4 linked regions of the Homo sapiens genome follow. The protein of the gene in region 4 purifies or fractionates together with the protein of the main gene of each other region. This does not show direct contact. Each region holds a gene or a part of one and is shown on either strand. Other genes may lie near its edges.

Region 1 (3,500 bases), on a different chromosome or scaffold from region 4:
CTATTTTCTTTTCCCTGCCCGGTTTTGGTTTTTTGGGAAAAACAAATCCTGGCAGGGACTGTTTGGAGAGACCTGATGGGAGCAAGTTGGGCAGGCATGACCCCTGGTATTTTATCTTCCAGCTATTCCGCGAAGTAAGAATAATGAAGGTTTTGAATCATCCCAACATAGGTGAGCACAAGTTGTTATTTCTTTCTTCTTCCCCAACAGCAAGGCACTGCTTTCCAGCATGTCATCTTCTCCCCGAGGTGCACTGCCTTCTGGAGTCTGCAGTCTTCAAGGATACCCCTGGGGAAGCTCAGCTCAAAATCCATCTCCCCTTCTGGCACACTGGGCTGTCTTTAGCAGTTTGGCTGGCATGAGAGGAACTTGTTCTTGGGAGTGGGGGATCATGAAAGGAGGGGAGACTTTCGTTCCTAGGATGCTCCTGGACATGTTGGAGAGCAGTATGTGGCCCCTGTTGCTTCTTGACTTAAGGCTTGGCCTTTTCTCTTGTAGTTAAATTATTTGAAGTGATTGAGACTGAGAAAACGCTCTACCTTGTCATGGAGTACGCTAGTGGCGGTAGGTGTGGAACTGCCTCTTCCTGTTGTGCCCCCACTTCTTCCACCTCCAGCCAGCTCTGACTGAGATCCCTGCCTGGTCTCTTACAGGAGAGGTATTTGATTACCTAGTGGCTCATGGCAGGATGAAAGAAAAAGAGGCTCGAGCCAAATTCCGCCAGGTAGGTGTGACTCCCTCCATAGGAGCTAGGCCTGACCTCTGCTTTTGGGGTTTGACATGTAAGGATAAGCTGCCTGTCTGTAAGTGGCCCTTGGAGGGTACTTTGGGCTCTGCTTATCCGTGTGGCAGGTTAGCACTAAGTCACAGGGTCACTGCTCTGTCAGCCCCTGTGGCCCACCCTCAGGCACCCCTGGGTTAACCCTTCTTCCTTCCTTTCAGATAGTGTCTGCTGTGCAGTACTGTCACCAGAAGTTTATTGTCCATAGAGACTTAAAGGTAAGGCATGCACTTCTCCTTGTGCCTTTGAGTGGGAGCCAGGTTGTTGCCTCTTGGTTCTCCATGATAAAACCATCAATAACCATCAGGCCCTGAGTGTTCCAGGAAACTCCAGCCTTTCTTTTTTTCTTTCTTTCTTTCTTTTTTTTTTTTTGAGATGACCAGAAAGCCCCTAGGGCTGCCTCTGATAGAGGCCTTGTGGCTGGACCTCGGGTTCCATTCTAGCCCTTGAGCAGGGGCCCTCTGCCATTTCACCTCTTGGCACATCACCTTTTAGTGCTGCCAAGCAAGGCAGGCACACTCCAGGCTTTCTCAGTCTTTCAGGCAACCTGGTAGCTGACCCAGGGAAGAGTGCTGAAAGTTCCACAGCTGTATCCCAGCTGCTTTGCAGGCAGGCACACACATACCATCTCCATCACCAAGATACTCAAGTTTGAGGACACCTGTGGGTCTCTTGGCTGCTGAGTCCTCACAGACATGATTTGATTAACCTGGGCCTGATGCTGAAGCTTTGCACAGCTCACAGGGTCTCTGGGCCTTCAGATCCCATCTCTCCCATGGCTGCCCACGTGAGGAGTGGCCTGCATTGCCTTCCTCCTGCCCAGCCTATTCACGCTGATTGAAGCCCTGCCCTGAAATTGGTGGAGAAAGTTCTGAGACTGAAGATGACTTTCCGTTTGTTCTCCCATTCCCCTCAGCTCCTTCCTGCCCAGGGCCTTAGTCTGGTCCACTTGGTTCCCTGATGTTTTCCATCTTACCTCCCAGGCAGAAAACCTGCTCTTGGATGCTGATATGAACATCAAGATTGCAGACTTTGGCTTCAGCAATGAATTCACCTTTGGGAACAAGCTGGACACCTTCTGTGGCAGTCCCCCTTATGCTGCCCCAGAACTCTTCCAGGGCAAAAAATATGATGGACCCGAGGTGGATGTGTGGAGCCTAGGAGTTATCCTCTATACACTGGTCAGCGGATCCCTGCCTTTTGATGGACAGAACCTCAAGGTGGAGTGAAGTGCAAGCTTTTTATTGCTTCTCATTTCCTCTCGGCCTCTGGTCTTAGCCCTGACCTCCTGCCTTTGCCACCTGTCTACATTTGTCCCAAGCCAAAGCTTCAGAGAAGGGCTTGCTGAGGTAGCAGCAGTCAAAGGCCTTCTGCACCTGGGAATGAATAACCTCAGTTCCTTTCTCGAAAGATGGGATAAACTGTGTGTGTGTTCATCCCCCAAGGCACTCCGGATTGCAGGCCTCGGACTGGTCAAGTTAGAGGGTACGAGGGTATTTGACTTCACTTGCCTCTCTGGTGAGGTGTCTTGTCCCCAGGCTGTCTGCCTTCTTCCATATTTCATTTATGTCTGCTTTGCCAGGCTTAAGCTCTCAGGATCTTGGATATTAGGTTTCTTCCTTTGGCCTTGGGGTGATTTCAATTTTCTAACCCTGGATCCTCCTGCAGGAGCTGCGGGAACGGGTACTGAGGGGAAAATACCGTATTCCATTCTACATGTCCACGGACTGTGAAAACCTGCTTAAGAAATTTCTCATTCTTAATCCCAGCAAGAGAGGCACTTTAGAGGTGAGCAGTGGAGCCCAACTGGCGGAAGGGCCTGGGGTCCCCACAGAAACTTTCCAGCTGAGTTTCTTCCCCCTGCCCTTTTCCTTCTCTGTGCTCCCCAGCAAATCATGAAAGATCGATGGATGAATGTGGGTCACGAAGATGATGAACTAAAGCCTTACGTGGAGCCACTCCCTGACTACAAGGACCCCCGGCGGACAGGTGAGGCTGTGCCGGGCTGTGAGGTTAAGCTTGCCTAGGAGTTGAGGCCAGTCTTAACTGTATGTCCCCCTGTGCAGAGCTGATGGTGTCCATGGGTTATACACGGGAAGAGATCCAGGACTCGCTGGTGGGCCAGAGATACAACGAGGTGATGGCCACCTATCTGCTCCTGGGCTACAAGAGCTCCGAGGTGTGTGCTCCCCGCCCCATTCTCTGACCTGGCCAGCCTCACTGTCTGTAGCACCTATGCTTCTAACACCTGTTGAGGGCAGAAGCTCATCTCTGAGTAGGTGTGCTCTCTGCTCACCAATTTTAAGCCTCAGCTTTGGTGTCTAAGGTCCTCTGGCCCATTCACTGATCTCCATGAGTGAATTAATAGAAAGCTGGTAGGGTCGGTGTGGGACTGGGTCAGAGTTTCAATACGGGTGAGTTGATCTAGGTTAGTCTGCATTGATTAGATGTGTCTAGGTCATCGGCTAGCACTACTACATTGATCTAGATATCTTTGTGTCTCTTTTTGTATCTGGAAGTGTACATTTCTGGGTGTGTGTGTGTGTCTCTGTGTGTGTCTGATCGGAAGTTTGAGTCTGTTGCTTTTTTTTTTTTTTTTTTTTTTGAGACGGAATTTCGCTCTTGTTGCCCAGGCTGGAGTGCAATGGCAGGATCTTGGCTCACTGCAACCTCCGCCTCCCGGGTTCAAGCGATTCTCCTGCCTCAGCCTCCCAAGTAG
Region 2 (2,381 bases), on a different chromosome or scaffold from region 4:
CTGTTTATAGTTTAAACACTGTTTAATGTTAACAGTATGGTAGTCACTAACCACATTTATATTTGAATTAAAATAAAATAATTCAGTTCTTCAGTTGTACCAGCAATGCTTCAAATGTGAATCAACAGCCACATGTGGCTAGTGATTACTACACTGGACAGAATAGATATATAGCATTTTTGTCATTACCGAAGTCATTTCAGAAAATGCCATTGGACAGTGCCGGTTAAGAGAAAATGCCACTGTTAGGGCCAGAAATTTATAGGTCATCCATAAAGAGCATGCCTTCTCTAAGTGCGACCTGGATTTCCTATTCAAACTTGGCACTGCCAGGTTTTTAATCAATACATTTTTCAAATGAGACAAATATCTATAATGAATATGGGAGCAAGTTTTCAAGCAATTCAATAGAAAATACTAGGGCTCTAAATTCCTAAACAAGTATTTTAGAAGAAAAGATCCTAGCATATGAAATTCTGCATAAGGCTTCTGATTTACTTGATACTCACTTGTCCACTGCTAGTTCTGTGAAGGCTTCCACCTTCTGTAGCAATTTTCCACTTTCTTATAGCTTAGAACAGATTTCTATTTAAGGTCTGGTGAGGCCTTTGAGTGTAACTTCATAGGAATTAGATATTATTATCCATTTATTCCTCTGAGAACCACATTAAACTGTAGCTCCAGAGTATGTACAAAATGTATTTAAAAACTCTATAATATTTATTTATTTATTTTTGAGATGGAGTCTTGCTCTGTCACTCAGGCTGTAGTGCAGTGGTGTGATTTTGGCTCACCACAACCTCTGCCTCCCAGGTTCAAGCAATTCTCCTGCCTTAGCCTCCCAAGTAGCTGGGATTACAGGGTGTGTGCTACCACACCTAGCTAATTTTTGTATTTTTAGTAGAGACGGGGTTTCACCATGTTGGCCAGGCTGGTATCGAACTCCTGACCGCAACTGATCCACCTGCCTCGGCCTCCGGAAGTGCTGGGATTACAGGTATGAGCCACCATGTCCAGACAGAAATCTCTATAATCTTTAATATGTGGTTTCAGCAAATTTATTTTTCTCAGCTATTCTAAAAGGGAATTCTAAAAGAAGCTAATGTTCTTGCAAAATTCTTCCAAAATATCTAATACACATCGAATATGGTATTGCATGTACTGTTACATATTATACAAGTGTCTGAAATTTACTATTAAATGCTAAATTTTGATTTGTTAAGAAAGTTGTTAAGTCTTCCAAATAGAGCCCCTCTCCCCTTATCATATCTCTAGATATCTTTACCAGTGTGAAATGTATGACTCTATCTATATCCATATTACAATGTGTTTTACAAGAATAACTACACTACAGGATATCAGTTTTCCTTAAGAGGATTTTGGTCTCTGTCTTCTGAGGCATAGTTTACTAGTGAATTACTAACCATAAAATCCTAAACTATTATTGATTTTTAGATATAAATTTAAATTTGTGTGGAATAATCAGCTTTCATATAAAATTATTACATCTTTCACAAAAGATACTGTGGATACAATTTGGATGATCATCAAAACTTTCTGATAACAGAAGTAAATTACATAACTTTACTTCAAATTCTTCTTAAAAAACCAAACTATTTTAGAAACAACTTTTACCTTCTTTTAAGTTCTCGGGAGCCAGGATTCTCATGGCCAACACTTCTCATTCTAGTGTTTCCTAGATTGTGTCGTCCTGGTTTGTACTTCAAAACCTCACTTTGCCACTCCTCATCAAAAGCATGAGCATCACCTATGTCAAACAGAAAAATAATGGGAATAAGTATTAAGGTATCAACTGTCAGTAACTGCCTTGCTCCCACATATTTCAGTCTAGTCTGGTGTTTTCATTAGTGTAACCTCAATACAGAGGCAGGAAGCTGCTTCAAATATAAGGGTCTTTGACAAAAGTAGTATTTGTTTTCCTGTCTGTTCCTCTCCTATTCCTACTGATGATCTAGTTATTGATGATCTATTTTTTCAACTGCCTGGATAACATATTATTCTACCCAATGGACCAGCTGACCTAATTATATTAACTAACAGTTTTTCTTCCTGGGTCATCTCACAGTGAATATACTCTTCCTGTATAGTGTATACTTCTGTGGCTAGCACTTCTATTCACCTAACCATCTTTCTGTGTAACTTGACCTCACAAGTTTCTGTTGTCAATTTCCTAAGACAGGTTACTCAGCTAGAATGTCAATTCATGTTGTTATGAAGTAATCTAACTTCCATAATAGCAACAATAGAGACATGATAGTACTTCTTAAGACTGCTTTAAAATATTATGTTCCTTCACTCAATTTTTCATCAAAATGTTGATTATTGTGAAATACTCAGTATATATATAAATGTGATAAAAT
Region 3 (4,258 bases), on a different chromosome or scaffold from region 4:
TAATTTTTTGCATTTTTTTAATAGAGACGGGGTTTCACCGTGTTAGCCAGGATGGTCTCCATCTCCTGACCTCGTGATCCACCTGCCTCGGCCTCCCAAAGTGCTGGGATTACAGGCATGAGCCACCGCGACCGGCCTGGTTGGTTTTTTTTTTTACTCTGCACAATAGGTTTCTGAATGACTTATTAGAGGTGTTTGATGCTGATAGTTTGAAACTGATTCGATCAATTAAAAAATGTTCATTGGTATTGTTTTATTAGTTGCTAGAATATGCATTCAACTTCACTGAAACGAGACTTAAAAGGTAAGAGGTACACTACATCGCGACTATAGGAGTAAGAAAATTTAATTTCTTCACGCCATCTGACCAAGATGTTAAATTACTGAACCCTTTAGTCTTGTTTTTGTTTTGTAGATAGAAATCAAGATGCTGGACAAACCTTTCTCATGGAATAGTCAAAATATTTAAGGAACAAATCTATACAGTTTAATAACTGCCAACATTTGGCAGGGCTCATGCCTGTAATTCCAGCACTTCGGGAGGTCGAGGCGGGCGGATCACTTAAGACTAGGAGTACGAGACCAGCCTGGCCAACATGGCGAAACCCTGTCTCTACTAAAAAATATAAAAATTAGCCGGGCATTGGTGGCTTGCGCCTGTAGTCCCGGCTACACTGGAAGCTGAGGCTGGAGAATCGCTTGAGCCCGGGAAGCAGAGGTTGCAGTGAGCTGTGATTGTGCCACTGCACTGCAGCCTGGGTGGCAGAGAAAGACCCTGTCTCAAAACAAACGAACGAACAAAAAATTGCTGACGTCTGTGAGGTTCTTATTATGTGCCATGAATTGATCTACGTCCTTCACATATGTAAACTCATGCAATCCTAGCATACACACAAAAAACCAATGTGGCAGGTACTATCATTATCGTAGACAAGGAAACCGAGGACCAGAGAAGTTGAAGTAGCTTGGCCTAGGATGTAGGTTGTAACTCCTAGAGCTGAGATCTTGTTTATATACAAAAGGTTTCAAGAATCAAAAGTACTCTAAGCCACTTTGCGTTTCGGCTGTCATCGAGAAAGGGATATCCGAAGTTTCAGGTTCGCAGTTTGTGAAACGGAACGGCCAGCTTTCGTTCTAAGGCGGGCGGAGGTTTAGCCACTCCCTCGTCCTTTGCTCTGCCCCAGACACCCACGCTCGCTTTCCTCTTCTTCCTCCACCTCGCCCTACTTCCCTTCTTCCTATCTTCTCTCTTCTTTCGCCTCGCCGCCGCGAGCCCTCGCTCGGCGACCAGAGCCTCGCATTACTTCCCCTAGCTCCGCCAAGCCTCGCTGCATACGCGACCGCGCGCAGTCCGCCGTCGCGCCCCTATGACGTCACCCGCGCGCCACCGCTTCCGGGCTGGGGACTGGGGGCGGGGCCGCGCGGAGGGCAAGCCGGGGGCGGGGCCGGGGCCAGAGCAGATCTCCGGGCCTCCGCGGCCATAGCTGACTGTGCCGTCCCTTCCCCTCACCCGCTCCACGCCCTCCTGGGCCGAGTGGAGTTGGGTGGTGTCGGGAGCCTCTCCCTGAGGGGCACCGCGTCTTCAGGAGCTGGGCCTCCAGTGCGGCGCGATGTCAGGCGCGGTGACAGCTCTGTGAGTCCGAGGCCGCGGCCGTGGCGCTGGGCGGCTGCGGGGCCTGACCGGTCCGCTCATGGTGCCGCCACGACGCCATCGCGGGGCAGGAAGGCCAGGTAGGCAGGCAGGGAAGGGCCCCGACATCACCGGAGCCCAAACCGGGACGGAGTGCCCACCAGCAGCACCACCTCCTGCCCTCGGTGGCAGCAGGAGCGCCTTGACCGAAACCGTGAAGGTCTCTAGGGGCGGAGGGAGCGGGAGCTGACAGGGGCGCCGGAGCCCTGCGCCCACCGCTGGCAATTGAGGAAGCCGTGCGTGCGCCCTCGCCTCGGCTCCCCGGGGAGGCGTCGCTGCCTTAACTGTCTTCCCCGCTCCAAAACAGAAGGATGATTTCTTTTCCCAGCTGTTTCTTTTAAAATGACTGGATGTTTTGATAGAGGTGGGTGGAGGAGCATGGAGAATCCTTTTCTTTTACCACTTGAAGAGATTGGAAAGGTGCCTTCAAGACCCACAGCAAATCACTTACTCTCCGATAACCAAATTCCACTCCAGCAGATCAGGGACAGAAAAGACACTTTTAGAAACAGTGTCTAGACGCTGTCCCCAGGGATGGATTCCTCTGGATGGAGAGGTGAATGGAGTTCCGTATTTGTGAAACTCAGAGAAGCTATTTTCTGGTAGTTAACTGTTCTTAAATGTGCCGTATGTTGTATATTACTCCCCCTCCCTGCCCGCCCCGTATCGCGTATCTCTCTAAGTATAATCTGAAGCGTGCAGTGGATACCATGAAAGTACTGAGAAAGGTGGCAAGTATGTTTAACACATTTTGGTCCTTTTCATTGATTTGCTTTGAGTTTGAAGATGAAGAGTAAAAAACGATGTGATGAATCTTACCTTGAGTTATTCACGTTTTCATAGCATAATTTCATGGTTGTTTTTAGGGGTGCTGAGTTCTTCACCTCCTTTTAGACTGAGATCTGCCAAGTTTTCCGGCATTGCTCTTGAGGATCTCAGAAGGGCTCTTAAGACAAGGTAGATTCCACGTTTATCCTCTATGTAACTTTCACACTGAACATTAGCTAACAAAAGTCAAATGTTTCTGTTATACTAATGTTCTCATTTTTAATGGTTGTTTTTCTAAAATCATCTCTAATGTGATCTGTATTTTCTAAAAAACAGACTGCAAATGGTGTGTGTATTTGTCATGAACCGAATGAATTCCCAGAACAGTGGTTTCACTCAGCGCAGGCGAATGGCTCTTGGGATTGTTATTCTTCTGCTTGTTGATGTGATATGGGTTGCTTCCTCTGAACTTACTTCGGTATGTACCTTTGGTCCAGGAATGATGTTACATTACAGCCACAATGTTAACTCTTAACCTGTAGTAACTCTAGCCGTTACAATCTCCTGCTTTCTAAAAGCAGTATCTTAAATACTATTGAATTTTTAAAAAACGTTGAATTATTGCCACTTGAAGTTAAAACTGAAAGGATGATCCTTTTTATTGTTTCATACAGTTTTCTTGTATCTTTTAGGGAGGGTTACTTAGAGAGACTATGCATATTTTCTTACATTTGAAAGTGTAACTCGTGGCTTTTTTTCTAAATTCAAATTCTTTCTGTAAATATTATTTTCTAGTGAAATAACTGTCAGGATGCAAAACAATGTCACCATTTAGTAGAAGGTTCAGAGTGCTTTTGGACAAATGAGTAAAAATAATGAGTTTTCATGTATAGGTCACTGTTACAATGCCCATGAGTGGTTGCATCCACATTTATGCTTGCTGACTCAAACCTTATTATAAGATGCATGGTATACCTCATAATTTTCCTTCAGTTAAATTGTATCTTGACAGTTTCCTTCAGTTAAATTGTGTCTTTATTGATGACCTATTGGTAGTAATGTGGCATTTTGAATTTGCAAGCTAGTTTTTCTTTCTACTTGTATACTTTATTCTGCTTGGTTAATGATCCCTATAAAAAGCAACTTTTATTTTCAGAAGTCTGCATTTCAACTTCTACGTTGCAATTTTAAGGCGAATATACAGCAGGAAACTGGCATTTATAAAATGAACCTAATTTTCAAAAGAAGCAGTTTAATACTCAGGTCTCATATTGTAGCTAAGTAAATATTGACATTGGCATTGTATCCTATGAGTATATAAGTTTTTTTTTTTTTTTCTTTTTTTTTTGAGATGGAGTCTTGCTCTGCTCTGTCGCCCAGGCTGGAGTGCAATGGTGCGATCTCGGCTCACTGCAACCTCCGCCTCCCGGGTTCAAGGGATTCTCCTGCCCCGGCCCCCTGAATAGCTGGGATTACAGGCACACCCCACCACGCCAGGCTAATTTTTGTATTTTTAGTAGAGACGGGGTTTCACCATGTTGGTCAGAATGGTCTCAAACTCCTGACCTCATGATCCGCCCGCCTCGGCCTCCCAAAGTGCTGGGATTACAGACGTGAGCCACCTCACCTGGCCAAGTATATAAGTTTTTATGCTTTTCAGAATTAATCTCTGGAATCTAATAGACCATATATTTTTTGCTTTAAAACTCTTCTCTAACCTTCTTTTAGATGAACATTTTGTACTTCTACCTCAAAGAAATGTCTTTGATATTGACAGGGAACTAAACCTATCTTTTAAAT
Region 4 (3,061 bases):
TCAGATACTTGCCTTAATCGACTTTTCCCTGGGTATTTGGTTTATGTAGCCCTTATCCATCCTGCCTGAATTCAATATGAAGATTACTTGAATTTAAAATGATGGTAACACAGGCAAAGAAAAGCCATGTGCTTTATTTCCTGTTTTTCCCAATCTGACAAAGAGTGTTTTTGGCTCTAGAGGTACTTTGGCAAGACCAGGTGATGCATTCTATAGACATTGGGCATACAATACCTATAGTTTTGGTCTTGCATCCTTCATGGAGATTTGTGACCTTCCGTCTGTCTCTTCAATATGGTGCTGGTTGTTACCTGTGAAAGTTTTTATTGCTAGTCCTAGAGAAGAAAAACATATTTCAGTGGTTCTAGGTCTTTAGCTTATTTACATGGTTTTAGAAATCTAAACTCAAGAGTCATCTTCCTAGTCTCAATGAGAAGACAGCTCGTCTTTCAGCAGTGTGGCCCAATGGGGTGAGTTACAGAAAGAAAGCTGTCTTTCTCCTTTATTACTGGGATCTACACGCTGCTGGTGGATGATTTAAGGCTCCTAATATCTTTATAAGCCAGTTCTTTTTAGGGCACCTTAAACTGTTAGTGGTAGAGTTTGCAAAGAGTTTTCTTTGCAGCGCTGTGTGTCCTTCCCACCCATTGGGAGCTCTTAAAGCAGATCACATAATAAGATGTACTGGCCCCTCATATAAAGAACAGCTTTTCGTCATGCTCCCCACTGTGTAGGTGATTTATAGTTTACAGGAAGACAAGACTGCTTGGAACCATGAAGTTCTTGGAGGCCATGGTTGCTTTTACCCACATGACTGCTATAACCCTTGATTCTGTTCTATCAAGTTACTTGCCTTGATATCATCACATGCTTTGCTGTCTGCTTAAAATATGAGTTCATCCCCCTCATACTTATTTGTTTTAGGGACCCAATTGGACCAGTGCTGGCACATGCCCTTCAAGGTACAATTTCTGAAAAGAGACTGCGCTGCCAAACTTATGTGTGCCTTTACCTCAGTCCCCCCAGTATAAGGGGTGACTTAATCTTGATAAATGAGTGACTGAGCACCATGCTAGTTAAATATTGAGAATTAAAAGCCTGAACCCAATGGCTCTATTTTTTTTTACCACCTTCTGACAAGCAAAAATTCTAGGCAGGAGCATGTGAACATTTTGGTCTTCATCTTTCACGTGTGCAATGATAGGTGTATGCAAAATTTTACTTGGATTAATTGTCAAGTTAAAAAAGTGTTCTATATGTATATCTCTTAGGAGAAGGTTTTTCAACCTGAAGGTCAGATTTCATTGCAGCAATTAATGCCATCAAAAAAACGTGGTCTGACAAAAAAGATTCACAACCTTTGCCAGTGGTTCACCTATTACAGCAAGATGTAATACTATCAATACTTACTGTTCTCTGTAATGGGTTTAACCTTTCCCAGAATTGGACATAAAGAATGACTACGATGAGAAGATTATAATGAAGTCTTACTGGCTTTTCCTAGTCTAAAAAGAGTACTTAAGAAAGAGAATTAACATATCATTTCCTTTTGGCTGATTTTTAGCTATATCTGTTTTTGGTTCATAATATTCTATATTATCATCTCACAAATTTTATAAGTCTTGGGAAATAATTTGCCTGCCTAGTGAATTGACACTGTAAAAAGCAAGACGTTATTTTAAACACATAAAACTAATTTCAAGAATCTGTGGCTTACACTCAAGAGTGTACTCGTGGTTTATGTTTGTGTGCAGATTTATGTGCACTCAAGTCTATGTGCATTTGGACTATATTTTATAGTTATACAGCTTTAATATCCAAAGTTATTGTTAGAATAATTTTATTATAGGAATTTGGCATGCCTTACTATTGACATTAAGAAGAAGAGAAGTCTTTCACAAGTCATGAATGAAGAATTTGGAATCAGCCTCAGAATGAGATGCCATAATTATTATAAACCTGTTTTGGTTGTTCAGCCTCCCACAAATATTTATTAATTTGTTTTTTAACCTCTCAATTTCAGGCTCATGAGAGTGTGAGATATTTGGAAATTATTTTACCGTGAATTGTTATTTTATTTCAGGGGACTATGGGGAGTATATTCCTTTGTTTCAAATTTGGGTAACTCTCCTGTGTTTCAGGAACAGCTCTCCCTATTTTTTCACTGCCATCTTCAGGCTTCCTAGCCAGGCTCCAAACAAATGTCATATAAGAAAGAAAGATTAATTATTACATATTGTGTATTGAGAGTTTGTACCCTGTGGTTCTCATCGTGCTGTTAATTTTACTTTTCTTGCCAAACAAAAATAATTTGACATTGATTATGTGCTTTTTGATATTTTCAAGGGCAATTATTAAGGTTATGAGCTCTTTCTTAGGGCACTTGATGCCTTATATGTTAATAGCAAGTGTGTCATATCATTTTAAAATAAAACTATTCAAAGGCTTTATTGTGTTTATTAAGCTTAATTTAAATTGGAATCTGTAATGCTGATTTGGTCTTTTAAAATTATATTTGAAATTATTTGTCCAAAAAAATTAAAATGAATATTTACCCCTAATTTAGGTTTGTCATTCTTCTTGCTACCATTTCACTATATAATGTAGACTGTGCCTTATTTTTTGTTGTTTTATAGGAAATAGTCCAAGTTATTTGGGTTTCTCTAAATTACTCAGTATTAGAGTACACATTTTATGATATGGAAAAATACATGAATAAATATTTTTTAAAAACACTTATCTGAGTGTCTAGAAAGCTTTTAGGTGAGAAACAAGTATCAAATTAACTTATGCACCTGCTTTTAATCTAATTTTGATCTCCATTTTCATTTGAAGAATGTATCACAATTTATATTATTAACTGGAATTTTATCCTTATTATATATAAGTGCTGTCAAGGTCAAAAACTCTAAAGAGACATTTGGAAGTGAGGCCCCATATCTTGCTCCATCTATTTTGAATAAAAATTGGATCAAGATTCTTATCTACATCCTTTATAGGAAGAAAGTCTACTTCTTTCGATATCTGTTTTTTTCTAGAAGTTCTTTTGGCTTTTGTTAAC

What was found.
Region 1: the proteins of TMEM74 (region 4) and MARK2 purify together in Homo sapiens (affinity purification with mass spectrometry; one large-scale study listed by BioGRID and IntAct). This does not show direct contact.
Region 2: the proteins of TMEM74 (region 4) and MLF1 purify together in Homo sapiens (affinity purification with mass spectrometry; one large-scale study listed by BioGRID and IntAct). This does not show direct contact.
Region 3: the proteins of TMEM74 (region 4) and SLC35F5 purify together in Homo sapiens (affinity purification with mass spectrometry; one large-scale study listed by BioGRID and IntAct). This does not show direct contact.

The regions. Positions count from the first base shown.
Region 1 is NC_000011.10:63,898,110-63,901,609, forward strand, and holds part of MARK2 (serine/threonine-protein kinase MARK2), read left to right. Parts: intron 1-122; coding exon 123-171; intron 172-498; coding exon 499-564; intron 565-653; coding exon 654-724; intron 725-942; coding exon 943-999; intron 1,000-1,764; coding exon 1,765-2,001; intron 2,002-2,449; coding exon 2,450-2,569; intron 2,570-2,670; coding exon 2,671-2,770; intron 2,771-2,847; coding exon 2,848-2,960; intron 2,961-3,500. UniProt on the Homo sapiens protein: Serine/threonine-protein kinase. Involved in cell polarity and microtubule dynamics regulation. Phosphorylates CRTC2/TORC2, DCX, HDAC7, KIF13B, MAP2, MAP4 and RAB11FIP2. Phosphorylates the microtubule-associated protein MAPT/TAU.
Region 2 is NC_000003.12:158,602,194-158,604,574, reverse strand, and holds part of MLF1 (myeloid leukemia factor 1), read right to left. Parts: intron 1,769-2,381; coding exon 1,636-1,768; intron 1-1,635. UniProt on the Homo sapiens protein: Involved in lineage commitment of primary hemopoietic progenitors by restricting erythroid formation and enhancing myeloid formation.
Region 3 is NC_000002.12:113,753,843-113,758,100, reverse strand, and holds the start of SLC35F5 (solute carrier family 35 member F5), read left to right. Parts: upstream 1-1,458; 5' UTR 1,459-1,691; coding exon 1,692-1,731; exon of another isoform or gene 1,732-2,224; coding exon of another isoform or gene 2,225-2,246; intron 2,247-2,556; coding exon 2,557-2,647; intron 2,648-2,794; coding exon 2,795-2,936; intron 2,937-4,258.
Region 4 is NC_000008.11:108,778,474-108,781,534, reverse strand, and holds the end of TMEM74 (transmembrane protein 74), read left to right. Parts: 3' UTR 1-2,561; downstream 2,562-3,061. UniProt on the Homo sapiens protein: Plays an essential role in autophagy. TMEM74-induced autophagy may involve PI3K signal transduction.